Regions from separate parts of the Homo sapiens genome. Here region 1 is linked to region 2. Evidence: fine-mapped expression QTL. A gene starts in region 2. The other region holds a variant in brackets. All regions are shown on one strand. Distances are from middle to middle. Region 1 holds the start of CSRP3 (cysteine and glycine rich protein 3). Region 2 holds the start of E2F8 (E2F transcription factor 8).

The links.
Region 1: its variant is fine-mapped to the expression of E2F8 in skeletal muscle (GTEx, PIP above 0.99).

The regions. Positions count from the first base shown.
Region 1 is chr11:19,196,346-19,207,270 of GRCh38, reverse strand. It overlaps CSRP3 (cysteine and glycine rich protein 3), which reads left to right and starts at 5,288. Exons shown (of 6, transcript NM_003476.5): 1 at 5,288-5,317. CSRP3-AS1 (CSRP3 and E2F8 antisense RNA 1) reads right to left here and starts at 10,558. Exons shown (of 6, transcript NR_183675.1): 1 at 10,352-10,558. RefSeq lists an enhancer at 1-886. The variant C/A (reference allele first, on the strand shown) is at 5,675.
Region 2 is chr11:19,236,581-19,247,505 of GRCh38, reverse strand. E2F8 (E2F transcription factor 8) reads left to right here and starts at 6,561. Exons shown (of 13, transcript NM_024680.4): 1 at 6,561-6,958; 2 at 7,276-7,399; 3 at 9,374-9,652; 4 at 10,036-10,192. The coding sequence starts at 7,385. All of the region lies in intron 1 of CSRP3-AS1 (CSRP3 and E2F8 antisense RNA 1), which reads right to left. RefSeq lists enhancers at 4,215-4,784, 4,785-5,356, 5,562-5,671 and a silencer at 5,792-6,491.

The sequences.
Region 1 (10,925 bases), 40 kb after region 2:
CAGCACAGTGCTGGAGAATGCTGACAGACCCTAGAACTCCAGAAAGTGATTTAAAAGAAAATAAATTAGAGAGAACACTGAAAACAACACCATAAAAAGAAGTGTCCACTAACAAGTGAGAAATTTCAAAGAATTCCAGAGAGAAAGCAGAAGGCTGTGGATTAACAGAGCGAGAAGTCCTGGCCACAGCAGTGTAGCAGCGTGTGGCGAGGCAGGAGCTGTCCTGGGACATCCCAAACTTGCATGTCCTGGGACATGCAGAGTGGAAGGCACCCTGGGCTATCACAAGGGTGATGGATAAGAAGATGGGTCCAGGGCTAGGAGCTTTCCTCACTTTCCAGTGTGGCTCCAGACTAAGGGGCCAGAAATCCCAGGGAACTCCCCATAGAACCAGTGACCTCCAGAGAGAGTGGGACAGCTCACACCCAGGAAACACACCGCCACTGCACACACCTGGTAGCAGGCTCCATCCCTGTCCCACAGTCCCTGCGGGAAAGCTCCTTTAATCAGAGGTGGTATCCACCAAAAGGAAAACAGAAATTCTCAAATGACATGGTAAACACATATCCAAAAATCCCAAATATAGTTGAAAAACCAGCACTATGAAGATGAAACACCAAACTCAACACACAAAAGAACAAATATCCAAGAAAACATAATTGATAGAGCAAACAAAGAAGACTTCCCCCAAGTTAGTATAATGAATATCCCCAGAGAGATGCAAGATGATATGTCATTTATAAAGCAAGGATGGGCTATATGAAAAAATTAGGTATCTTAAAAATTATAAATGTAATTATTTTAAAATCAGTAGATGAGCTGAGCAGAATGTACATGGAGGAAATGCAAATTAGTTCCATGTAAGATTGAGCTAAGGAATTCTCCCTTAATAAACATAAAAGGACAAAGAAATTCTAACTTCTAATGAGAGTTTCAGCAAGAGGAAACATTACATATAGGGAGGGATTAATGAGAGAAATAATAAAAGGAAATTTCCTAAAGGAAAAAAAGTGAGTTTTCAAGTTGAACTCATCCACTAAATTTCAAGCAAAATAAAATTTAAAAGGCCGTAACACAGGAAATTGTCATAAAATTCAAGAGAAGATCCTGAAAGTTTCTAGAGGAAACAAGACAAGTCAATAAAGGAACATGAATATGACTGGCACCAAACTGTCATGTACGTTACTAAAAATAATTGAAGACAGTTTTCAAAGGTCTGACTGAAAATTATTTTGGATAGAGATTCCTAAATTTAACCAAACTAGCATTCAAGTGAAAGCAAAATGAAGACTATGAGGGGCGGGATAGTGTCCCTCCAAAATTCGTATGTTGAAGTCCTAACTCCCAGTAGCTCAGAACGGGACTGTATTTAGAGATAGGGTTCTTAAAGAGGTAATTAAGTTAAAATGAAATCATATGGGTGGCTCCTAATCCAATATGACTGCTGTCCTTGTAAGAAGAGGAAATTAGGACCCAGATACACAAGGAAGACCGTGTGCAGATACAGAGAGAAAACAGCCATCTACATTCAGAAGAAACCAACCCTGCCAGCACGTTGGTCTTGAACTTCCAGTTGCTGGAATTGTGCAAAAATAAGTTTCTGTTGTTTAAACCAGCCTGTCTATGGCATTTGTTACATTATGTGATAATTCAGTAAGTTTACAGCAGACTCTCTCAATGAATTCATCGAGAATGATTTACCTCACACACACACACACACACACACACACACACACATGCACACACACAGAATTAAAAATGTAAGGTACAAAAAGTAAATAAAGAACAGTAATTGGGAGGCTGAGTTGGTTGGATCACCTGAGGTCAGGAGTTCGACATCAGCCTGGCCAACACGGTGAAACCCCGTTTCTACTAAAAATACAAAAATTAGCCAGGCATGGTGGTGGGCACCTGTAACCCCAGCTACTTGGGAGGCTGAGGCAGGAGAATCACTTGAACCCAGGAGGCAGAGGTTGCAGTGAGCTGAGACTGCGCCACTGCACTCCAGCCTGGGTGACAAGAGCAAAACTCCATCTCAAAAAACAAACAACAACAATAACAAAACAGTAATTGAGTGAAGAAAGCACTAAAATTTATCATTAGGTTTAAGTAAGTACTAACCCATAATGAACAAAACTAATTACAATCCAAAACTGAAACTACACATCATGTTGTGGGGAGGTGTGTAAAGGCAAGTTCAGAATGTGCAAAGAGGGCAAGACGTGACGGTCAAAGTGCAGCATTCATTTCAAGCAAGGAAGCTCCTTTTATTTTTTAATGCTTAATTATAACTTTATTTTTTCCTTTGTTCTCCTAAAAAAATAAAACGGGATACATGTGCAGAGTGTGCAGGTTTGTTACATAGGCATACGTGTGCCACGGTGGTTTCTGCACCTATTGATCCATCCTCTAAGTTCCCTCTCCTCACCCATCCCCCACCCCACAGCAGGCCCTGGGGTGTGTTGTTCCCCTCTCTGTGTCCATGTGTTCTCATTGTTCAACTCCAACTTATGCATGGAAGCTCCTCTTTATTTATTTATTTATTTATTTATTTATTTATTTATTATGCTTTAAGTTTTAGGGCACATGTGCACAATGTGCAGGTTAGCTACATATGTATGCATGTGCCATGTTGGTGTGCTGCACCCATTAACTCGTCATTTAGCATTAGGTATATCTCCTAATGCTATCCCTACCCCCCCCCCCCCACCCCACAACAGGCCCCGGTGTGTGAGTTCCACTTCCTTGTCCATGTGTTGTCATTGTTCAATTCCCACCTATGAGTGAGAACATGCGGTGTTTGGTTTTTTGTCCTTGTGATAGTTTGCTGAGAATGATGGTTTCCAGCTTCATCCATGTCCCTATAAAGGACATGAACTCATCATTTTTTATGGCTGCATAGTATTCCATGGTGTATATGTGCCACATTTTCTTAATCCAGTCTATCATTGTTGGGCATTTGGGTTGGTTCCAAGTCTTTGCTATTGTGAATAGTGCCACAGTAAACATAAGTGTGCATGTGTCTTTATAGCAGCATGATTTATAATCCTTTGGGTATATACCCAGTAATGGGATGGCTGGGTCAAATGGTATTTCTAGTTCTAGATCCCTGAGGAATCACCACACTGACTTCCACAATGGTTGAACTAGTTTACAGTCCCACCAACAGTGTAAAAGTGTTCCTATTTCTCCACATCCTCTCCAGCAACTGTTTCCTGACTTTTTAATGATCGCCATTCTAACTGGTGTGAGATGGTATCTCATCGTGGTTTTGATTTGCATTTCTCAGACCTAAAACCATAAAAACCCTAGAAGAAAACCTAGGCAATACCATTCAGGACATAGGCATGGGCAAGGACTTCATGTCTAAAACACCAAAAGCAATGGCAACAAAACCAAAATTGACAAATGGGATCTAATTAAACTAAAGAGCTTCTGCACAGCAAAAGAAACTACCATCAGAGTGAACAGGCAACCTACAAAAATGGGAGAAAATTTTTGCAATCTACTCATCTGACAAAGGGCTAATATCCAGAATCTACAATGAACTCAAACAAATTTACAAGAAAAAAAAACAGACAACCCCATCAACAAGTGGGCGAAGGATAGGAACAGACACTTCTCAAAAGAAGACATTTATGCAGCCAAAAGACACATGAAAAAATGCTCATCATCACTGGAAGCTCCTCTTTTATCTGCTTTATATACTGATTTTCCTCTTATCTACAGAAAAAAGTATTCTGATGCAAACACACACACAAAAAAAATTTTAAAGCTACTATTGGTTGACCAGTTTCAGTGACTCAAGCCTGTAATCTCAGCACATTGAGAGGCCGAGGTGGGCAGATCACTTGACCCCAAAGTTTGAGACCAGCCTAGGCAAAATGGTGAAACCACATCCCTACAAAAAAATTAGCCAGGCGTGCTGGTGTGCGCCTATAGTCCCAGCTACTCAGGAGGCTGAGACAGGAGGATTGCTTGAGCCCAAAAGATCGAGGCTGCAGTGAGCTGTGATCATGCCACTGTACTCCAGCTTAGGCAACAGAACGGGACCATTTCTCTAAACAAACAAACAAACAAACAAACAAAAGCCACTATCCTAGACGATTTCTAAAGTCCTTTCTAGCTTTAACTTTCTAAAATCCTCGTGATTGCCTCGTCTTTATGATGAAGATGCCATTTAGTGAAAACACAGACCACGGATATCTCATAGGAGGCTATGCCACGGCCGTCTTTGTGAAATTACTGCAACCTTCTTGACAGTGAAATATTCTATCCTTCAACAATTGCTTTGTGGGCAGGTAACCAAAGGGCTAATATCTGATGTGAAGGCTGGATCATGAACCTCCCGGTTGGGTTCTACATGTACCTTACCTCAACATCCGGGTCAACATGAGTGGAAGGGGCTTGGTGCCTCAGTTTCCTCATCTATAACATGAAGAATTGGTCTTCACATCTCTGAACCTCTTGTCAGCTTTTCAATGCCATAATTTATATCAGTCCCTGGTGCTTGATCAAATTTAAACGGTGTGAATTCCAGACAAAGAAAAATTAGACCTCCAAAGAAAATATGGGTCTACAGAGACATATCAAGATGTTATAAATATAATGTGATGATGATAAATATGCACTGCTGTATCAAATTCTTAAATAGAAAAGGATAATAACAAAGTAAATCAAAACTTTTTAGAGAAAACTTCGTTTCCTAGGATAGATGGAGTGACAGGTCCCAAGTGATGTGCCAACCTTTTTTCTCCCAAGCTTCTTTGAAGAGATTATCTAAGTATCGTTTCAGACACCCATCACCCTTATTTTTAGCTCTGAGTTCTCTTCACGAGTGTGGTGACCTGTGGCTCTAAGTTCCAGAGGCTCCCAGATATGGCACATGACTCATTTGCAGGTACCCTGCAATGATTTCCAGGAAGGTCAGTGGGGTGGGGGCCTGGAGAAATGATTTTTGATGTTAAACCCTTAGCTCTTGTTCCTGTTCCAACCACTTGATCAGAAATGACACACTTCATAAATTGATCCCTTGGTGCCATAAGCAATTGGCAGTGCAAATAGAACCCAAGTGATTCGGTTCTCCAAGAGGCTCACAGCTGGCTGGGGGGTTGGGGGAGACAAAACTCAGGGCTTTGGTCACAGTCTATTTTCAGCCCCTGATAGCAGTTGTGTTACTCACGTCTCATTCACCCTCTCCCTTGGCCTCCCTCCTGCCCTTCCCCCAGCAGGCCAAGGCTGGTGACAGCCTTCATATATTTAAAGAGGACAAGAGCCCCTCAGACTCAGTTGAGCTGAACGGAGTCCACACAGGCAGGTGAGTGGAGCAAGGCAGACATTTGAGCTGGAGGTGGGTTGGTTCTGTGGCTGGTTTGGACTATAAAGGGTCCCATAGAGTAAGAGCACATTTTACGTCTCAAGTGCCAGCACCCTCTCTGGTTCTGTGCAAGGAGGCTCAAGTTGTACTTGACTCTGGTGTGGATCTAGCAGGTATTAAAAAATTCCTGCAAGGATGGTTAATATTTAGGGGGCTTAAGGGACCTCATAGGCAGATAAATGAGTAAAGAATTATCCTCATTATAAAACTACTTACGTGGTGGAATTACATTTCCTGTCATCTTAGTTGGAACAACTGGAAAGCGGGAGGAAATAATGGAAAGTCTGCTGACCTTCT[C/A]GTCTTACAACCACCATATAATTCATGGATGACAGACTTTGAGAAGGTTCCTGCCCTCAGGGGCTTGGTCTCCTCTTCTGCAAGGATCAATACAAATTGGCGACATTTTTTCCAAACTGTAAAGTACTGCACAGATACAAAGCGATAAGCGATTGTACTAGATGCAATATATAAGACAGCTTTCCCATGCTCAATTTACCTGGAATGGTGTTATTCAAAAGGTCGTGGTGAATGACTGAGATTTTGGGCTTGTTGATTTTAAATAGACTTTTGTATCCCAAAGATATTCAGCAACAAGTTTGCTTTTAATCTTTTGAAATTAATCAAAACTGGACCCCAAAAAGACATTGCTATGTTGAAATATATTAAAAGCTCTATTAAATGGGAGGATAATTTATCCAGTGGTTAGGATTCCCACTGTTTCCTCTAGGTTTTAGTCAAGGACTTTTTAAAATATCCCAGTGAATGACAGACATAGGTGTGATTGAGAATAAGAAGAGGTTTTAAGCAATGGTCTGAGTGGAAATGCTGCTGAAAGATCCAAGCTGCCGACTCTAATTTCTGCCCTGTTCCTGAGCCAAGGTGGTGACTCCTCCAAGAAGGAGGAGTTGAGTTACTGGTCTGAGGAACCTTGTCTCTGCAATACGATTCAATGTAATTTAATAAGCATGTATGGACCATCTCCTATGTCAGGGCTGGAGGGAGGTAGAGGCAGCTCTATGCAGGGAAGGGTATAAGTGAACAGCACGAAGAGTGGGAAATTGGGGATGGCCTGTGTCCTCAGTTTACATCTGGGATTAAATCTCAATGCTGGGTACATACAATTCATCACAATGCATGTAGAACTGCTTTATGATCCAGAAAATGTGAGGGAGTCTTATGACTTGGCTTTGTTCCCTTTCTGAACAACTCAGTCGTTTGTGGTCAGTGGCAATGAGCCCAGGCTATTGGGCAGGAGGTGTAGCTGAGCCCCAGGGCTTTGTGTCCTCCCTGGGGTTCAGGCAGACAGGTGCTCTGCAGCCCAGACACACGTGTCATCCATCAGAAACAGGAGACACAGGGCAAGGGGCCTCCTCCTTCGAAGGAGAGAAGGGGGGAAGGAAAGAGAGAAGGAGGGAGGGAGGAAGGGAGGAAGAGAGGAATGAAGGAAGAGGGAGCTGCAGCAGCATTCAGCCAGCAAATAGCCAAAATTCCCTTGGAGGAAGTGGAGACAGAATCTTGATAGAATAGAAACTCAGAAATCCTGGGATATTCAAGAAGAAAATAAAGATAATCAGTTATAGAGCCCGTTCAAATTATAGCTCTGAATATCACTTAACTTATCTGAGTTTCCATTTTCTGAACAATAAAACTAAGGGTAGCCTACCTCTATCAAAGGGACTTGTGAGAATTGAATGAGATAAAGTATAGGAAAGTACTTTTGTAAAGTTTAATATAACCGTACAAATATGTGAGAACGTTGAGAAAAGGCATACAGCCAAACCCAGTGGGTTTTGGGGGGGTTTCCTGCTAAGTACAAGCGTGCTGATAAAAGTCCAGAGGTCAGAGTGGGTAAGAAGCTGACCAGGAGTTAGAAGATAATTAATTTGTTTTACAAGAGGAAAGACCCAGGGCTAGGAATATAACACACAGGAAATACAAGTCTTGAGGCAGACAGATTTCCAGTTACAAGTGTGCTGTTCAGATATCTGTGAATAAATACTGTATAGAGGGTTGGGCTTCATGCACAAAGAGAAATGTGATGCCTGCAAATGTGAAAAACTGCAGTTATTCATCCCAGTGAAGAATGGCAGGAAGGGAGACAGTAATGGTCTTAAAGGGCATTGAGGATGGAGCCTTTTCTGAGCTTTACTGTGGGAAAGGGTTGATCATGATTTGATGGTCGTTTATGGCCTAGGCAGGCATGGAACGAGTACTAGCTTATTTAAGGGTCACAAAAAGTTATGCAAAACTCATTTTTCAGAGGAAGAAACTAAAGTTCTAGAAAGCTTAGGAATTGCCCAGCATCACATGGCTGAGAAAGCGGCAGAGCCAGGAGGTAAACTGGGATATGATGTGGTCTTTAGAAATAAATTGTAGAGGTCAAAATAGAACAAAGAGTGAGTTTTGGGAAGTAAAAGCTGGCCACGCTTCAGATATAATTTCACAAAAGGTGTAAGATGCCCATGTTCTACAGCCTTCATTTAATGTATGTCTACCATGTCTGAGTTTAAAAGGGGCTGAGAGCCAACACTCAGGTTTATTTCCATGCTGGCAATGAGCAACCTGTTCTTCCTGGGCTCTGTGAAAGGGCCTCTGGCCGGAGGACGTCATATATCTGGGTTCAGAAGCTCAGGAGGAAGCAGCCACTGACCTTGAATGTCCTACACCGAGAACTGAAGGGCATGAGCTCCCCAGACTACAGGGCCCCTGGCTAGGCATGCTGCCTCCAACCCAATCCAACAACGCAAGGGGACCGACTCTCACCCCGACCTGGGCACACCTGTCCTGGGGCACCGCACACTCCAAAGGCTGAAAAACAAAGCTGATTCACAGTCTGAACCAGAAGGGCCATGGAAAACAAGCAGGGAGTGAGTTGTTTGTTCTAAAAGAACAGACTTGAAAACTGGAGATAATGTAATAACAACAATAATAGTCATGATGCAAGTAACTACAATTATTCAATTCCTGCTATGTATTAAGTAATTCTATATGGTGTCTTAGCTATTATTATCTTCTTTAACCTGAAAACAACCTTCCCAGACAAGCCTTCTCATATTGTCTTTACATGAGGACATGCATTGAGGACACTGGGTCAGAGAATTTGAGCAACTTGCCCAGTGTTCAACAGTTAGTGTTTCTGAACTTAAGCTTGGTTCTTCCAAAGCCCATGGTTTTCACTGTGGCTATGTCATCTTTCTTACCCAAATTAAGAGTGAATAAAGGAGAGGGTTTGAGAGGGCACCCCATTGGGCAGCTTTTCTGCAAAGTGAGGTTTCAATCACTTTTCAGATCCTTAAATCTGTCTCAGGGCTTAAAGGACCCTTGAAGGGACTTCACTGTATAGCAGCCACTTGGACATCCGTCCCCACCTCAGCTGAAAATCAATAGTGCAGAAGAAATCTCCAGTTCCAAGGAAGCCCTTTCCATGTTGAACAGCCGTAACTCAGAAAGTCATTGATTTCAGTGAATGAATTCAGTTTCCCTGTTAGTCCCACCCTTGAATACCCTCTGTGTCCCATGGAGAGACAATGGATTGGTCACGTCTCAATTCCCATCAACTGGGAAGTCTGGGTGATGGAGGTGCTGACCCTTGTCCTCTCTCCAGTGTTATAAACAGGAGCATGAGATACAGAACCAGCTTAACGGGGGGTTAAATGGCAGCTCTTCCAATTACTAGCTGTGTGACCTTGGAAAAGCTACTTAAGCTCTTCAGTTCTCTTATCCATAAAAATGGAAATAAAATTTGCTCTGGGCAGCTGTTGTAAGTATTAAAAAATAATATATGTAAAGCAACTGACATAAAATAATATATGTAAAGCTTTGGAGTCAGAGAAACGTAAGTTCCAATCTATTCATGTGACACATATCAGTCCCATGAACTTGGACTAATGTAATTTCCCAAAGCCTCCATTTCCTCATCTGTAAAGTAAATGTTATAATAGCACCTACCTTGAAGGGTTGTTGTGAAGATTAAACGATACCCAAGGGCAGTGCTCCAGGCATGTTAACTTCAATAATAAAGTTAGAAATGACTATTACTATCGCTTAGATTCCATATATATATATATATATGTTCCTATGATCCAAAATCTTTGCTTCAGCCAGTGTAGACAATTGAACTCACTGCAGGAAATCAGGCATCTAGTAGGATGACCAACTGAGCTAGCACTGAGCTGAAAACGGTGGCATTGTGGCACTGTGGCTTGAGGTCTCTGCCCAAAGTCATGGCCTAAAGTTCCCTCCTGGGTGCTCATTTTATGTACCCACCACTTTTGCCCTAACTCATCATTGCTCAGCTTTATAGTTGGTAGTGAAAGAAGAAAGAAAGAAAGAAAGAAAGAAAGAAAGAAAGAAAGAAAGAAAGAAAGAAAGAAAGAAAGAAAGAAAGAAAGAGGAAAAGAGGGAGAGAAAGAGATGGAGAGAGGAAGGGAGGGAAGGAAAGGAAAAAGGATGGAAAGAAGGAGGGAAGGAAGGAAGGAAGGAAGGAAGGAAGGAAGGAAGGAAGGGAGGGAGGGAGGGAGGGAGGGAGGGAGGGAGGGAGGGAGGGAGGGAGGGAGAAATAGTTGGATTAGGAAGAATGTGCCCAAAATACACAGTTTAGTTATTCTTTTGAAAATTCAGATTGATGAATAACAACTTAAAATTGTGGGAGAACCTAATTGGTTCTCACATTTTATATTACTCTACAATTTACAGAATGATATGACAGTACTTGAACTAATAGGGTCCTCTCAGCAATAGTGAAATCAAAAGGATTATTGCCCTCATTCTAGTGAAGACACTGAAGTTCAGAGAGATTGAACGGTTTTCCCAGATCACACAGCTTCGAAGAGGCAAAATGGAACTAGAACTCCAGCCTCTGGCACCTGATCCAGTGTTTTTCCCACTGCCCCACTGAAGCACATTCCTAGTATAATCTCTTCTATGGTATTAGTTACATCTTAGTTTAAAAGTGGGCACAAGGTAGTCTCTCACCGGGATCTGAGTATCCAAATCTGGAGTCCAACCTCTTCCAAGTTGATGTCACAGGGCTGTCCATTCTATCTCATCCTCGTAAATTCCAGACTGTCCCCCATTTCAATCTTGACCCACGATTTGTCTTTGACAACATAGTCATCTCAGGGACTGGCCCAGAGAGTCGTGCCAGGTGGTATGATGGAGATTGTGACCCAGGTTACAAACAGGGCCGAGTGACGGGCAAGCCTATAATTGTATCCCACCTTCAATGACCCTTGCCAGTACCAGGCAACGCTGATAAACAAATGGCCCATCCCTTGGTACCTTGCCAGGGTAAGCTCACATTCTGGGAGTGTCTAGGGGAGTGTTGGGACACAAGAATTCCAAAGCAATGCGGGAAGCTGAAAAGGTTATGTTCATAAGCCAGGACCTAACTGGGATTTCAAATCATAGCTCCTTAATTAGCACATTGGTGCCATTTGAGTAACCTAAAGTGAAGTGGGAAAAAATAATTTCTCAATACTGCTTTAAATTCCATCATATTTCCATGACCTTCACAATGGTCCTGCCCAGGAGATACTATTATCAACAT
Region 2 (10,925 bases):
ACCTCGTGATCTGCCCACCTCTGCTTCCCAAAGTGCTGGGATTACAGGCGTGAGCCACTACACCCAGTCTAAACATTTTTGATTAAGGCTTAGAGGAGAGCTATCTAATTCTTTTGGAAAATAAGTTGTTTTGTCAACAAAATTAATCTGTGTAGGTCCTATTCTGTCTCTGTATTGTACAATAAAGCAGTTCAATGAGCAATAAAACTCTACCATAATATATCTGGATATCATGAAGCATATTAGGTCAAATCATATCCTGAAAACCGTAACTTTAAGGGGTATTCATTAGTGCCAAGAAGTTGGAAGAAATCAGGCAGATTTCAGATTTCAGGGAGGAGTGGATTATTAGAATGTTTGGTGACTGTTTAGAACCTTATATGGGGGATGCCCCCAGCCTGACACAGCTGATCAAGAGCCTGCTCTGTCTTCTCAGTGCCTGAATTCACAATGACTGAGGGCCACTGAGGTGTAAGGAACCCACTTATGCCAACTTCAGTATCATTCCAAGAGAAACAGGGCATCCTCCCGTGACTAAGAGGCCACAATCTTGAAGAACTCAGAGAAGCAGACAATTTGTCCAGATGCAGTCCACATCTCTGCAGAAGAGGGAGAAAGAGAGAGGGGGAGTGGGAGTAAGTGAAGAGTTGGCTTTGTTGCTGGGATCCCAAGGGCAGCCAACATGTCCTGTAGCTGGTGCCTAGCTGAGTCCCTAGGCTTGGAGCAAGTGATCCATACATATGGGATGAAAGGAGAAGAGAAGAAAACTTGGGTTCCTAGGGAAGAAAAATATCTACAGAAACTTTTAAAAAGTACTATAGAGATAGAACATTTATTTTTAAAAAAAAAATAAAAAAGGCATATTTGTTGAATTGAGGAATGGCGAGAAATCTCACACAGGAAAAAAAAAATACAATAAAAGCTAACACTTTGCACCAGACACTTTCTACTGCTTGAATATAAACTCCAAAAGGGCAAGGACTTTATCTCTTTCACTCACTGTGTATACCTAGCACCTAATTCAGGGTTTAGGGGCATAGTATAGCACTCAGTATACTATTTTTCAGTGAGTAAATAAATAAAACCGAAGAACCTAGCTAAAGTAAAAAACCTGACATTTAAAAGGGAGTGGTAATTACGAGCTCATTTTCCTAGCATTATGGAACACCAAGTGTGTGCCAGGCATTGAACTCAGTACTGAAGATAAAGAGATTAAAAGACAAGGTATCATCTGAGGTTGGTGGGATAACATTCCAGAGTAGAATTTTACTCCATCAACCAACACCTATCAAGCCCCTGCTCTGGGTCCGGCACTTTGCTGGGCACTGGAAAGACCAAGAGATGAAGAAGTCCCTCTCCCTGCCTTAAGGAGCGCACAGTGGTGTAGGTGGGAAGCATCCATAACAGAGGTGCCTATATAGGGGTATGATCAAGAACAGGATGTGAATAAATCTGCCTGGAGGGGATCAGCACAGTTACCTTTCACTACCAGCTTTAAGCAAAGAGCAGCAATCATTGATTGATCAGGAAGGTTATAGGATTCCTGCATTGAATGGGACTTTTGTTTTTTTTTTTTTTTTAAGACAGAGTCTTGCTTAATGGCCCATGCTGGAGTGCAGTGGTGCAATCTTGGCTCACTGCAACCTCCACCACCCGGGTTCAAGCAATTCTCCTGCCTCAGCCTCCCAAGTAGCCGGAATTACAGGCCCCACCAGCACGCCCAGCTAATTTTTGTATTTTTAGTACAGACGGTGTTTCACCATGTGGCCAGGCTGGTCTCAAACTCTTGACCTCAAGTGATCCACCCGCCTTGGCCTCCCAAAGGGCTGGGATTATAAGCATGAGCCACAGCGCCTGGCTCCAGTAGGACTATATTTTAGGTAATAAATTCCTGAACCCTACTCCTAGGAATCTCTACATATACTTCTTTAATGTCCTAGAACCTGGAAAAGCAGGTTTTTCCAACCCACTGATAAGCACTGGATTACATGACATTATGACAATTTTAAGATTCCATGCGCAATAATAAAATGAGAACAGAACTCAGACTCCAGCTTCGCATGAGGACTCTCAGAAAAATTTGTGTTCTATTATCCCCAAAGTATTTTTAAAATTTAGAAGCTGGCTGGGCGCAGTGGCTCATGCCTGTAATCCTAGCACTTTGGGAGGCTGAGGTGGCCAGATCATGAGGTCAGGAGTTCGCGACCAGCCTGGCCAATATGGTGAAACCCCATCTCTACTAAAAATACAAAAATTAGCTGGGCGTGGTGGCGCGCACCTGTAGTCCCAGTTACTTGAGAGACTGAGGCAGGAGAATTGCTTGAACCCAGGAGGCAGAGGTTGCAGTGAGCCGAGATCACACCACTGCACTCCAGCCTGGGTGACAGAACAAGACTCTGTCTCAAAAAAAAACAACAAAAAAAGAAATTAGAAGCAGTAATTGCTCAATAAATGGCAGCAACTGTTGCTGCTGCAGCTGAGTCCAGGGCTGCAAATGTCTATATGGGGCTCATCAGGATACATCAGGGCCTATCAGGAATTTCCCACAGGAGGTCACAGGAGAGTCTGAAGGGATTTCACACACAGCCCTGCTGCTGCCTGGGACTTACTCTGACCTAGTCTAGCTCCACAGTCAGCACAAGCCAGCTCCAGGCATGCCCACTTCCTGGGTCCCTTGCTTGTATCCATCCTCTTTAACCCTGCCCAGACTAGACCCAGCATGATTCATTTGTAGGCTTAGTACAAGGACCAGGAATAGCTGAGATCTAGCTGTGAGCAGCCACAATCCAACCCAGCACATAGGGATTTGTGCAGTTTTAAGCTCCAGAGAGCTGTTTCGTGGTATCTATGCCAACACGTACTGCAGATAAAGCACAAACCCAAATTGCCCCACTAGGTCAGGAAGCAGAGTTGGTGATATAAGCACCTAGGAGGTGGGGCAGCAAGACAGACAGAAAAGGTCAAGAAACCCATTAGCTAGAACTCCTTCCTTAGCCCTTCATCCTTCCCTGCTCAGCAGGGGAAGGTCTTGCCTGTCTTTTTGGTGATGATGAAAAGGGACACGCTTCAGAAATCCCAAATGTTACCTTTGAATGTAGGCGCCCCGGTGATGCCTATCTTTCCTCCTTACCTTTGATATCTTTTTTCATAATACTTTATTTAATGCTGAACGTGTTACACAACGTATCAGCCCTCCAAGTTGTGCAATCCAGAAGGGCGACAGCACAGAGTAGAAAAACTGGTCTAACTTCAGTGAGACACAGATTACACAACATGATGAACAAAAGACCAGAAACAAATACACAAATATTCCCTTGGATTATGTAACTAATAAGTGGAAAACATATTTGATGGGAAAATTAAAAAAAAAAAAAAGTTTCAAGCTTATGCCCTGATCCTTCCTTCTTGGTTATGCAGTAAACATAAAAGTTTTCAGTAGTCTTTTCCCTCCTTTACACTCATGCTGCATTTCAAATTGATACTCTACACAGTGATGAGTAGAACCTTTCTTTCTTTATTACCTTTCATTACATGAAAGTGTTGTTAAGACTTCAAAACTGTATCACTTCACTCTTAATAAAACCACTTTTCAACATATTCAATGAGTTTGACTATAATTTCACTTCCTTCAGTAAGACATGACAACTATCAGTAAGCAAGAATTACACTCTCACCTTCCTGTTTTTTTGTGTGTTTAGGGAGGGGTTGAAATGGTTAAGGGCTAGCCTGAGTTGGCACTAACATTGCTCTCACAGGAACTTTCAGAGGCAGTGGAATGGGATGTATGAACTTGGAGCAGGTAGACCTGGATTCTAATTCTGGCTCTGTAGCTAACTTGGCCATCAGTTTAACCCTTTTGTGCCTCAGTTTTCTTCTCTATAAAATGGGACACAACTATCCTATGAAGCAAGTAAGGATGAGCACGCCGCACAGTGGTGAACACAGCTTTCAGTGGAAAGCCCTGAGACGTTAAACACCCTTGGCTTCAAATCCCAGTCCTGTCCCTTACAGTTAGACCTTGGGTTTGTCACTTTAAAATGCTGCTTCCCTCTCAGAGTCATAACCCATGCTTTCACACCTGTGCTGAGTATGAAATGAGAGGCCATCTGTCAAGTGTCACCAGAGGTGGCTGCTCCCTGCATGATGTGCCTTACAGGTAACTGTCACTCAGACATCTGCAGCATGAATGGCCCTGTAGATCACAGATTTGAACGAATTAGTCACTATCTCTGAACACAGGTGCATGAGGCAGACTGCTTCTAAAGAACTTTAAAAGGGATTTATGGCCCACAGGACTCCGGGGCTGTAATAACTTCGGGTACATTAGGCATAGCTGAATCTATGCACTCTTGGGAGCGCTGACCATTCAGGGGGTTGGGGGAGATGACAATCTGGCCAACAGCTAGTGGCTAAAGCAGAAGCACCAACTCCCCACTTTTTGTTGATACATTTAGAACCCAGTCTTGCTCCAAAAAAGGGGTACCTGGGCTTAGTAAGAACCAGCCGCTCAGTGCTAGCAACGGTGGAACCCTATATAGTGACCTCTGCTTTATTTCAAATCTGCGAGCCACAGGCAGTGGCCCCTCTGCACAGTACCTGAAAGGCCTGCTTTCAGGTCGAAGCGCCTTCTTGAGCAAGACCTGCACCTCAGCTGGCGACGAAAGGGGGACAGGGACACGACGGCGCCAACATTCCAGGGCGGCCACACCGCAAGCCTGCGGTCGCGTTCCGCGGGGAGATGAGCCTTCGCTCGCCACGGAGACCCCTGGCCCTATGGCCGGCAGCTGCTGCGCTGCGACCCCAGCCTCAATATCATAGCATCCCCGCCCTCATCGCGTTTCGCAGAAAATAAAAATGCCTCGCCCTGCTAGTCAGCAATGGGAGAGTCACTGATCCCCAAGTTAGCGGTGGGAGTGGGGAAGTGTGGCCCCGGGCCCTGCTGGAGCCTAAAGACACGCGATTACAGAGGAGGACGAGCCAAACCGAGTCCAGATCGAGAGACCGGCGCCCAGATCTCGGCGCGGTTGGGCAACACTCAGCACCAGTCCGCAGAAAAGTCTAAGGCAGAGGAGAGCAAAGGGAGCCAACGCGGGCGCAAATGATCCAGGTGCAGCCGAGGCAGCGCCGCCGCCCCGGGCCTCGGTGTCCCGTTCTGCAAAGTGAGGACGAAGGATCGAAGTGTCTCCCCGACCCTGCTAGGGCTCTACAGGGAACCAGGCTAAAGCTGCCTGAGGCTCGGAGACCGGAAAAAGAGGGAAAGACAACAGGGAAGAGAAAGGGAGGAGTGGGTGGGAGACCCTGAGGAAAGACGGCGAGGACAGGGTTGGAGGGTTTTCCGCCTTCCTCCTCTTCCTCCTACACCTGAGTTCTCACCGCTGGGCCAAGGCCCAGAGCCCACGGAGCTTAGGCACCAGTAGCCAAGCTTCTCCCTCCTCGCGCCAGTTTCTGCGAGGCACGGGGCAGACGGTGGGCAGCACAATCATGCATGCCAGGGGTGCAAGGGGGAGAGGTCCGGCTGGAGTCCGAGGGCAGGTGAGCCGGCCTGGGGCTGGGCAGGGGTGAGATAGCCCCAAGCGGGGAATCGCAGGGCGCCTGCGGCCCAGCCCGCGAGCCCCGGACGGGCCAAATTTTATTCCCCAACTTTGAGCAAGGGGAGGGGGTGTATGCAAAAAAAAAAAAAAAGGAAAAAAAAGTTGCTGAACTTTTCCCCCAACTCTGCCGTAGAGGCGGGAGTGGAGGGCGGTGCCTGCACCGATTCGCCGGCGGCTACGGTCGGGAGGCTCGGATTGGCGCTCGGGGGCCGGGGCCGGGGCGAGCGGGCGTGGGGGAGGGGAGCGGCCCTCCCCGCCCGCGGTATCGGCTCGCGCCGGGAGCGGGTTAATTTCAAATCGGGGGCTTGGCTGCTCCTGGACGGTCACGCTCCCTCTGCCCGCCAGCCGGCCCGCCAGTCCCGGTCCCGGCGTCTCTCTCCGGCACCCACCTCGGCGCTGCGGAAAGACTGACTGCCAGGTACGCGGGCTCCCGGGCCTGAGAGGGGCAGCGGTGCTGACGAGTCCCGGCTCAGCCCCCGCCGGCTCCCGCCGTGAGGTGGACTGACAGGTCAGCGGGACGCAGAGGGGCGCGGCGCCCGGGCGACACGGCACCGGGAGAGGGCTCGGGAGGGTGGCGGCGGCGGCGGCGGCGGCCGTTTCCCGCCTCCCGCTTCGCCGGGGGCCGTGAGGGAGGAGCTGAGCTCCCGCGCAGAGGGGCGGGGGCGAACGAGGGGGAGGGGCGGGGTTGCCGTGGTTCCGGGCGCGGGTTTGCCCGCGCTCAGGCCCCGCGCAGCTAAGGGGAGGCGCCGGCCACGGTCCGACTTTCCGCGCCAAATTTTTAAATCGAAGGCGGAAGGTCCGGCCCCGCCCCTGGCGCCGTCGGCCAATCGCAGGCCCGCTTCCGGCCCTCTGATTGGTCGGGAATTGTTGTCCTGGAAACCACGATGATGCTGTCCGGGAACTGTCGGGACTGCGGCGGGCGGACAGGGCCTGGGGGAGGGGCCTTTGGCCGAAAGTTGGGGGAAGTGCACTGAGCGAGTGGCGGCCGGGGGACAGTACCTGCTTGCCTTATTGGGCAAATACAGCCTTCCAAGGTGGAGTCTAACGCCGTGGTGTGAACTGGCCACCCGAACAGGGAGTAAATAGTGCTTTGTATCTTTAAGGAAGCCCTTTTTTAAATTTAAAAAAAAAGTCTTAATTATAAGACTCTTTAAATGCCCAACTGCATACTTGGAGCTTTGGGACTGAATTTGGAACTTTCCTGTCAAGCGACCTCCCACGACTTTACTGCTGAGCCTGTGCACGTGTGTGTAAGGGGAGAAATCCAGGCATCTAGATGCAGACTTGTACCCAGTTACTTGGGGTCGCGTGCGCTCAGCTGGGACCTGGGCTCGTGCGCTTAGTCCGGAGCCCTGATCTGCGAACAGGTGGGTGCTTCCTAAAGTATTCGCTGGGGTCCGGAGAATGGCTCGCCTTTTCTACAGATGGGAGAGGGCTGTCACTAGAAATTCCGTGGGTTGCTTGAAGTCTTAGGACCGCCGATCCGTTTGCTGAAGGAATTTACTGGCATTTGTTGGCGTTCTCCGCTCAGTGGGGCGATCTCTGGTCGAGAATAAAATGTAAATCTAGTTTGTCATTTTTCGTTAGGCTTTGTTTCCGTAGCCTCTTGTCCGTGAAGGAATTTTCAACAGATCTTTTGGTTCTTGTTTTTCTCTAACTTTTTCTATTTCCTTTTTTCTTTAAGGATATTAAAACTTTTAGTACAATTGATTGGACTACTTGAACCATCGGGATTTGGGGAGGAACTCCAGATTTTTCATTTTTAAACTCTAAATGTATGAGGAATTTACAGAATGGAGAACGAAAAGGTACTTTATAACTTCAGTATTCATCATTGCAATTTTAAATTCAGTATCATCCTGATTTAACTCCATAATTTTTCCCTATCCAATGTGTTTTCTTAATGCCACAACCTTGGTTAGCCTCTGTAAAGACCTGGAAAAAATGAACCTTATCTTATAGTTTCAAAAATATATAGTTTAAAATATATACTAATTTAATTAATATAGTTTAAAAAATGAAAATTATCTTAAAAAGAAATTCAGTCTCCAATCATGTCAAATGCCCTTTCTGAATTCCAGTTGTTCAAGAATCCTCAGAAATGTTGTAATGAAACTAACAAATTTTATTATTCTTAAAAATACCTTTTCTCTCTTTATGTCTGAGACAGCTACCAAATCATTAAAAACTAGAAAGAGTGTAAAGGGGCAAACCTACCCCTCTTCAAAAATTCGTTAGTTTCATTACAACATTTCTGAGGATTCTTGAACAACTTGGAATTCAGAAAGGGCATTTGACATGTTTGGAGACTGAATTTCTTTTTAAGATAATTTTTTACCAAATTGGCAGCTTATTTATGGGGTCTGCAAAATGCTCTGTTTAGGGGGCAAACATTTTGTAAAATTACAAAAGAATTGTCTGTGGGGGGTGTCCAACTACTAATAGGTTTAAAAAAGTGAACTTACATGCATATTTCCTAATAGTTTTAGATGTTAGTCAAATAAGAGAATTACTATTGCTTCTGATAATCTGAGGCAAAGAAAAAGCCTATTGTCAGATCAGTACATCTCAGATGCACACACTGGCAAGGAGCTCCTGTTGGGTCCACCATACTGACTTCCATGTAAGAAGAGCACCATACTTGGAGTGAAAATATCTGTGTTCCACTCCTACGTGACCTCTCTCAGCCTGCATCTTCTCTTCTGCGAGCTAAGAATGCAGGATTCCATGAACATACAAACGGAAATGCACTTGATAAACCCAAGATGTCACAACATGTCCCATTTGTCCATGTTCTTAAAGTTATTTGGTCTGCCTATTATTTTACTTATTGCTGTTCCAAGCATTTTCTTTAAAATAGATAAAGATGGGAGTAGTGTGTGAAGTCCCTGGTGTCCAAAACTGGAAGGAACATAGTCTCCATTAGCCTTATTTATGAACTGCTGTTAATTTACCCTTTTGTCTCAGTGGCTATCCTGCTTCTGCCAGGATCTAGCTTTGTGGTCTTAGGTAGCTGTTAGGTTGATGCAAACATAATTGCTGTTTTTGCCATTACTTTCAGTAGCAAAAGCCACAATTACTTTTGCACCAACCTAATCATTTTACTTCTCTGGGCCCCATTTTCTCTATCTGTAAAATGAGGGAGTGGATGTTCAAAGAGCAGACTTTTCTGGTCAGAAATCCTGCTGTTGGACACTCTAGATTTCCCTGATAAATCTGACCATATGCTATCCCTCACTCTTGTCTCCTTGTCTCTCTGACTCTTCAGTGGTATTTTATTTAGCACCCACTGCATGCAGCCATTATGCTAGGTGGATAAGAATTTCTGCCCTGTAGGCCTTTACTTATTACAGTGCCATGAGTAAACAAAAGTCATTTCTAGAAGTTTGATCATTTAACATTGTCAGTCCAATTAGGGGAAGCTGAGTGAAGGGCATTTGGGAACTCTATACTGTCTTTGCTTCTCTTCTCTAAATCTAAAACTATTTCAAAATACAATTAAAATTATAAGTCCTAACTAAAGTTGTTTTTTCAGTGGTTGAAACATAAGGTGAAAACATTTATGGCTTATTGCAAAATTAAAAATGGGAAATGTAATTATTAGAATTGACAATACACATCACATGACCATTAGAATACAGTTATTAATTTCCTCAACTCTACAATCTCATTAGACATTTTTTCCTTGGCATGATTCTATTCGTTATGCAATTTCTAGAATCCAAGCTGTCTGATAAATCCTGTTTTACCATGGATTTAATTATTTACATTTTTTAAACCAGGAAAATCTCTTTTGTGAGCCACATAAAAGGGGACTAATGAAAACACCTCTGAAAGAATCCACCACAGCAAATATCGTGTTGGCAGAGATCCAGCCTGACTTTGGCCCTTTAACCACACCTACCAAGCCCAAGGAAGGCTCTCAGGGAGAGCCGTGGACACCGACAGCCAACCTGAAAATGCTCATCAGTGCTGTGAGCCCTGAGATCCGCAACAGAGATCAGAAAAGGGGTTTGTTTGACAACAGAAGTGGATTACCTGAGGCCAAAGACTGTATACACGTAGGTTTTCAGAGGACTGGTTGGAGGCTGGGGAATTTGTTGGGGGGAGGGGGGAGGTTGTAGCTATTAGAGAAGTGCCAGCAATTTAAAGCATCACCACCCGAAGGCTGTTATTAACTTCCTTCGGAGCACCAGAAAGGTTTGGACCCCAAGAAATATAGCTCTGGGAATTCTGAACCTTTGCGTTATTTTCGTTTCAGGCTTTCCTTTCAGGTTTGCCAAGCATTTTGTACTGGCCCCCCTAACCTTTTCTCCCATCCAGACTTTGCAGCTGTTGAAGCTAAGCGTGTGTAAGTTGGTGTCAGTCATCGAGCACAGATGCCCCTAATAAATCTGTCAGACTTTATTTTAGAATAAGACATTGTTTACCTTTTCCTTTGTAGGAACACTTATCTGGAGATGAATTTGAGAAATCCCAACCAAGTCGAAAAGAGAAAAGTTTAGGATTATTGTGTCATAAGTTCTTAGCACGATATCCTAATTATCCCAACCCTGCTGTGAATAATGACATCTGCCTTGACGAAGTGGCAGAGGAACTTAGTAAGTATGCAAAGAACTCACTGAAAGAATTAATAATTAAAGTGGCTTTATGGACTTAACTCCTTCAGACCCCCGCTCATCTAGCCAGTGTTTGTAAATGACACAAATAAGCCGGCATGGAAATTTTCTATCTCTAAAGCCCTCTTCTAATATAAGAATGAAGGTAAGTAGTTGCAAATTTCAGCAAATCTTGGAGGCAGAAAAGTCACAATGGAGGTTGCTTCTGACTACAGTTGTCTCTGAAGCTTTAAAGAAAGGCAATATTGTCTCATGACTTGTTTCACAAAGTTACAACTGTGAACTTTTGCTTCATTGCTCTCCCTTGCTGTTCTTGAAGAATCAGGCTGATAAATGGTTATCTTCCTAGTTGACGCTGAGGATCAGCTTCTGTGAGTGGGAACAGGACCTGTGCACTCCTGGACCTTCAGCACTATTCTGAGGACTAGTTTTCTGAATGTTTTGTGTTGGGCACAAGTTATTCCTCCTGCCCCTTTTTACTCTGTTCAAAGACCTGAATCTATTTGGAGCTAAAAAGGGGCCCGTGGTGAATTTGGGGTACCTTTGGAGTCATGTGGGTATCTTAATTTAAACCTGTGAAGTGATGTGCTGTGCAAGATAATACATTTTAATACAAAGCAATCACCCCGTGAAGAAAAGTTGCCCTTCTAATACATGTTTGTAAATATCAACTTTATTTCACATTTTAAGAATATACCGTTTAGATTCATCTACT